Homo sapiens: one gene and its partner. The protein of the gene in region 2 purifies or fractionates together with the protein of the main gene of each other region. This does not show direct contact. Each region holds a gene or a part of one and is shown on either strand. Other genes may lie near its edges.

The links.
Region 1: the proteins of BLTP3B (region 2) and BTK purify together in Homo sapiens (co-immunoprecipitation; one large-scale study listed by IntAct). This does not show direct contact.

The regions. Positions count from the first base shown.
Region 1 is NC_000023.11:101,358,692-101,362,191, reverse strand, and holds part of BTK (tyrosine-protein kinase BTK), read left to right. Parts: coding exon 1-19; intron 20-1,436; coding exon 1,437-1,624; intron 1,625-2,041; coding exon 2,042-2,104; intron 2,105-2,844; coding exon 2,845-2,899; intron 2,900-3,495; coding exon 3,496-3,500. UniProt on the Homo sapiens protein: Non-receptor tyrosine kinase indispensable for B lymphocyte development, differentiation and signaling. Binding of antigen to the B-cell antigen receptor (BCR) triggers signaling that ultimately leads to B-cell activation.
Region 2 is NC_000012.12:100,087,375-100,090,874, forward strand, and holds part of BLTP3B (bridge-like lipid transfer protein family member 3B), read right to left. Parts: intron 1,722-3,500; coding exon 1,541-1,721; intron 1-1,540. UniProt on the Homo sapiens protein: Tube-forming lipid transport protein which mediates the transfer of lipids between membranes at organelle contact sites. Required for retrograde traffic of vesicle clusters in the early endocytic pathway to the Golgi complex.

The DNA.
Region 1 (3,500 bases), on a different chromosome or scaffold from region 2:
AACGCCTGAGGAGGACCAGGTATACAGGGAAACTGGGTGCTGCCACTGCTTAAATGGAAACTTATAGTCAAGCCCTAAGAACACACTAGAGTCTTAGAATTACCCTGGGACTTGGCAGTGTTAATTGGTATTCTTGCTAAGATGGGGGATTTGTTCTTCTAATTAGGATTTCCTCCTCGATGGAAAGATAGAAGGCTCTCAGCAACCATGTAATCCAATCACCTGTTTAGAACAAAACCTGATTTTTTTAATGTAAAGTTTTTGTTGTTGTTTTGTTTTTGCTTTTGTTTTTGTTTTGAGACGGAGTCTCGCTCTGTCGCCCAGGTTCGAGTGTAATGGCATGATCTCGGCTCACTGCAACCTCCGCCTCCCAGATTCAAGTGATTCTCCTGTCTCAGCCTCCTGAGTAGCTGGGATTACAGGCATGCACCACCACGCCCAGCTAATTTTTGTATTTTTAGTAGAGATGGGGGTGTCACCATGTTGTTCAGGCTGGTCTCGAACCCGCCTCGGCCTCCTAAAGTGCTGGGATTACAGGCGTGAGCCACCGTGCCCAGCTGGAAAGTATTTTCAAACATACAGTAAAGTTAGAAGAATTTAACACTTAATACCAACATACTCAACACTTAGCACTAACACCACCTATCACTAACACTTCAGAAGTTTTTTTTTTTTTTTTGGTTCCTTCTTGAGGGCTAGAAAGCCCTTTCTCACATATTGTAAGTAAGTAGAGCAGGTATTATTATACTCATTTTACAAAGAAGGAAACCAAGGTTCTGAGCCACTTAGTAGATTCACGTACAAGTTTAGTGCCAAGCCGGTTTCCTGACCTTAGCTATAAATGGTTTTTGTCTAGTGAGCTTTAAAAATAGTAATGTTTGGGTCCCATTCCTGAGAGTTTGATTTTGATGTAATTGGTCTGTGAGGAAACTGACTAGGTATTGGAATTGGTTTTTTGTTTTTTGTGGGTTTTTTTTTGAGACAGTCTCACTCTGTCACCCAGGCTGGAGTGCAGTGGCGTGGTCTTGGCTCACTACAACCTCCGCCTCCTGGGGTCAAGTTATTCTCCTGCCTCAGCCTCCTGAGTAGCTGGGGCTATATGCACACACTACCATGCCCAGCTGATTTTTGCATTTTTAGTAGAGATGGGGTTTCGTCACGTTGGCCAGGCTGGTCTCGAACTCCTGGCCTCAACTGATCCGCCCGCCTTGGCCTCCGAAAGTACATTGGAATTTAAAAGTTCCATACATGGTCTTTATATGTGTGCAAGGCTGAGAACTCCTGCACTGGTGCTTAAAAATGGTTGTTGAATGACTGCTGAGTAATATTTTAGTATGCCTGATTTGGGTGTCTTGAGTAAGCCAGAGAGTTGGGAGAGAAGAGAAGAGTGCTTGGTATCTTGACAAACCCTCCTACCTTTTCTCCTAACTACATAGATCTTGAAAAAGCCACTACCGCCTGAGCCAGCAGCAGCACCAGTCTCCACAAGTGAGCTGAAAAAGGTTGTGGCCCTTTATGATTACATGCCAATGAATGCAAATGATCTACAGCTGCGGAAGGGTGATGAATATTTTATCTTGGAGGAAAGCAACTTACCATGGTGGAGAGCACGAGATAAAAATGGGTGAGTCCACACCAGCCCTTCCTGAGCCTGGTGCCTGCCCACTCCCTACACGCAAAAAGTGCTGCGGCATAATTCCCGTGATCAGCATCCTCATCAGAGACTGTTCTTCCCACACCAGACTGAACATGCTCTCCCTCCAAGTACTTCCCAGCGTGCAGCTCCCTATACATGGCCTCTGCCACATCTCTGAGCCTCTGTTGTTGGGCACATATAACCAATGCAACATGTGCATAAGCTCTGCACCTCACTGGCTCACTGCCTAACCATGCATCAGAGACATGATTGTCTTTGAGGGAGGTGCATGATACATATACCTCCATTTGAGATTTGTTCTGAGCTCAGGGACGTGGGCATATGAATCTGTCTCCTGGAGGCTGGGGAGGTGCTGGATGAACTGCCACATTGTTTCCTTCACAGGCAGGAAGGCTACATTCCTAGTAACTATGTCACTGAAGCAGAAGACTCCATAGAAATGTATGAGTAAGTATGTTTATGTCAGTCCACAATCTTCCAGGAGGAACTCTCTCTCTCTATATATATATATATTTATTTATTTATATATATTTTATATATATTTATATATATATATAACACACACAAGTGTATATATGTATACATATGTATACATACACTGGTGTATATATAGGTATATTATGTATACATACACAAGTGTGTATATATATATATACACTTTTTTCTACTTTCAACATATTTTTTATTTCAAGATATATATTAAAATTAGTACCATCTGAATCAAATGATGCCACCACCTCAAATTAGTGTATCTGTCTTACCTTTACCCCCCAAACACCCTCCATTTATGAGAGCTGGAGAGGTCACCATGCCCTCAAATCCAGAAGAATCACACTCAAAGAAAAAGGAGTTGACGACCTGATGAAAGAATTAAAATGTCAAACTGCTACTGTTGTCCTTTCCTCCCTAATCATGGAAGTGGATTGTTCTCAAGTGCCCTAGTCCCTGATCTCTTCCCTGCAACTCCCTGCTGCTTGCCTTTGCCTGCTACTCTCCATTTCCATGAATCTTCAATGCCAACCTGGGTTTGGGAAAGGGATACAGTGTGCTATGCACATGACAGATGCTCAGTAAATAGGGTTTGAGTGAGTTGACTGAATCACTGACATGGACAAGCCCTGGAGGGTGCTGTAACCTCCAATCTGCTTATGACCAGGAGCCACTCAAGCAGCACTCTCCCTTCACAGGTGGTATTCCAAACACATGACTCGGAGTCAGGCTGAGCAACTGCTAAAGCAAGAGGTAAGTGTGGAACCACTAGCACACAGCATTCTCCTTGCATAAGTGAGGATCTTGAACTGAGGGCCTGTTCTGCCCCCTACCTTTGGGCAAGGCAGTGTCAAAGCTGCCATCGTCTGGGATCCCAATTACACCATTTTTTTTGTTTTTGTTTTTCTGAGACGGACTCTCGGTCTGTCACCCAGGCTGGAGTGCAGTGGCGTGATCTGGGCTCACTGCAACCTCCGCCTTCTGGGTTCAAGTAATTCTCCTACCTCAGCCTCCCAAGTAGCTGGGATTACAGGCACATGCCACCACGCCCGACTAATTTTTGTATTTTTAGCAGAGACGGGGTTTCACCATGTTGGCCAGGCTGGTCTCGAACTCCTGACCTCAGGTGATCCGCCCACCTCGGCCTCCCAAAATGCTGGGATTACAGGCATGAGCCACCATGCCCGGCCTGCACCTTTTAATATTAAAAGCAATGAGGCTGTAGCTCAAGCGTGGAACTTGGCAGTAAAATCAGGGGTTGTTCTATTTTCTCTCTCAAGTTTGGGCAGGTGGGATGCAGGTGTGAGCACCACTTCCTCCTACAGACAGCTTCTTTTTCGTTGTTTCAGGGGAA
Region 2 (3,500 bases):
GTAAAATCCAATTTATCTCAACTAGTAGAATTTTCAGCACAGGTCTACAATCCCTTACGTAAAACCTTTGGAAAGCCAAATGTTTCAGAATTCAGAAATGTTTAGATTTCACGACAGTAATATGATACGGTATATACAGGATATACCATGCAACACTCTCAGCAGGTTCTGAGGCAGCACTAATAAAAATAGCAATTCTGCAGCAAAACATAAATATTTATAGGAAGCAGGCAAAGAATAAAAAAAAGTATTGGCATAAGTCAGGTTTTGCCACCAAATGAGTTTTTCACAAACTTATAATATTTCAGAGCCTTTTGGATTTCACAATAGTGATTACAGACCTGTACTATTAAGGAGATATTTTGGTGAAAAGGTTTTCTTCCTAAATAAAATCATTCAATTTATTCTATCAGGGAATAGTGAGGAATGTAAGGCCTTAGAAAACACTTTCTCCATTCTCATTCTTACTACTTAATCTTGACCACCTCATTTTCTTAGTTTGGTTTGTTCTAACTTTTTTGGATTTTCCTTTCAAATCTCTAAAGTAAAAGATGCCAACTATAAGTCAAATGACACAATGGTAGTCAGAACAAAAGATAACAAATCCCTCCACAAACCCCGAATCTTCCTCACCTTTGCCCCTCCAACCTTTTAGGCTGGAATCTTTTAGGCTGCCTTGTCTAATGAAGGCAGGGTAACTTCTACTGCTAAGTATCCAGGGTCTCAATATTCACTTTCTCAGCTTAAAAACACATGGCAAAAATTTTTGTAGATATAGATCCTGATTCAGATCTGAGGCACAGAGATCAGATAACTCTATTGTTTAAAGGTCTTCAGCCTGATTCTAATGCTCACCAAAGTTTGAGAATTATAGTCCTTAAGGTAGGCCTACCTGCTGAACTCAACCCCAACACTTCTGGGCCAGGGATGCTCTCCAGCAGAGAAACAAAAACGCCCAGCGCCTAGATTACAGAACTACATCTACTAAATAAGGAAAAATAACAGGGACAAAAACTAAAAGAAAATTCCTAACTGGAATTTTGCTTCCTAATCAAATTTTGGAAGGATGGGAAGAGAGGTGGCCATAAAATATGTTAAATAGTTGCACAGTTGTGCTTCTATTCAAAATAGGTAGAAAAACTGCAATGCTGAAAACACATCTACAAATAATTATGAATTAAGTATGGACTAAAATTTAATTTGGAGACAATTTCAACATTATCAAAAAGTTAATTCAAAGGCGAGTCTAATATTTCATCATCCTCCTAGAGGATCATCTATTCAGTCTGATTTTTTTAAAGCTAATTTTATTGTTAGCATTGATAGCTAACAAATAATTAAGCTTAAGTACTGCTAAAGCAAAATAAAATTTCATACCAATATATGCTTCCAGTTGTGCCTTTCATCTATATATTCATATGAACACAATTATGACAAATTATCTTACAGGACATCCTACACAACAGATTTAATAAACAATCCAGTTTTGTAGTCAATTCTAGAAAAACCAAAATAGTTTGAAATAAGCAAGTTATTTTACCTTTTTCTTTAGCATGAATGTCATCACATATGTGTAGATCTAGATGAGAAATCACTAAATGATGGGAGGTTTCCTTAACATCAAAATCATTGAATAGTTTCACAATTGCATCATTTACATCAGGAGCATTTGAAGTTTGCGTTGTCTTCACTTGCTGGGCAGATGCGACTACTGTAGAGCTCTAAAAAGATTCGAAACTGCCTTATCACTGCCAATTTAAATACTGGAAATTTCACACAAAAATCTAAGTATTTTCAGTCGAAAGTCATGAAAAATAACCATAGTACATCTTATTTTTCATCAATAATATATTTTCCCTAAAATATTTTCTGAATTACCTAAGAATAAAACTAAAATTTAAAAACGGTAAAACTAGGCTCATGCCTGTAATCACAACACTTTGGGAGGCCGAGGCAGGCGAATCATCTGAGGTCAGGAGTTCAAGACCAGCCTCGCTAACATGCTGAAACCCCATTTCTACTAAAAATATAAAAAATTAGCTGGGCGTGGTGCCGCATGCCTGTAATCCCAGCTACTTGGGAGGCTGAGGCAGGAGAATCACTTGAACCCGGGAGACAGAGGCTGCAGTGAGCTGAGACCGTGCCACTGCACTCCAGCCTGGGTAACAGAGCGAGACTCCATCTCAAAAAAACAAAAACAAAAACAAAAAAACAAACAAAAAAACTGTAAAACTATACACAAATCAAATATGAACCCAATATATCTCAGTAAATATCTGAAGTTATATTTAACATATTTATAGCCCTTGTTTTAGAAAATGTAGTTAACTCTTAAAGGCAGTTTATTTGAATATTATATATATTAAAAACAAAACAAATGTGGGCCCTGTATACACTGTTATATATCTGATATGGTTTGGCCCTGTGTCCCCACCCAAATCTCATCTTGAATGGTAGTCCCACAATTCCCACGTGTTGTGGGAGAGACCTGGTGGGAGATAATTCAATCATGGGGGTGGCTTCCCCCATACTGTTCTGGTGGTAGTAAATAAGTCTCACGAGATCTGATGGTTTATCAGGGGTTTCTGCTTTTGCAGCTTCCTCATTGTTTCTTTGACTGCTGCCATCCATGTAAAATGGGACTTGATCCTCCTTGCCTTTCACCACGATTACGAGGCTTCCCCAGCCACATGGAACTGTAAGTAGATTGCCCTGTCTCGGGTATGTCTTTATCAGCAGCGTGAAAAGGGACTAATATGATATCCTATAGAAATAAAGCACATCTTTGTAGAAGCCCCTGTGATATTATTTAGTACTCTAAGTGCTCTGGTGCCTCTCCTAAAAGATGTGGTATGTCCTTTGAACTTGAATAACTAAAGAAGCCAGAAAGGAGACAGGATTTATAAATAGGTTGTGAGTTCAAATATTTTTCTCCCTGAAGAGAAATAGTATAGAACCCTGTTGATATATAAAAATAAATATGAACCTCTAATAGCCTAAAATTATTTTGTATACATAACTATAATGTAAGATTATCTGACATATGAGCCACAAAACTGTAGATGAATTTTTATAATAATTATAAGACCAAATTTTCCACTTTAAAAATTAACAATGTTCAAATTTAGAACAAGTTATTAACTAAAGATAATTAAAGAAAATCAAAGTATATGTATTTTGCATGTATATATATTTACACATATTACATCTATGAAGAACTATGATCATACTGTAAAAGAACTGCAAAGTATACTTAGTAAATGAGAATCTCTTCATGAAAATGATTGCAGCCCAAGGTAAGTAAAGAAACAAAGTGAAATATAGCTGTAAAACGTTAAATACTATAGACTCCAGAAAACTTTTTATTAATTAATTGTTAAACTGATATCAAACACTTTTTCTCCTGCTTTTCCCATTTTCAAAGCTATAACAAGACTGTATTTATGTCTATGATGGTGCTATTTAAAATACTCTCCGGTACTTCTTTCATTATGTTTTCT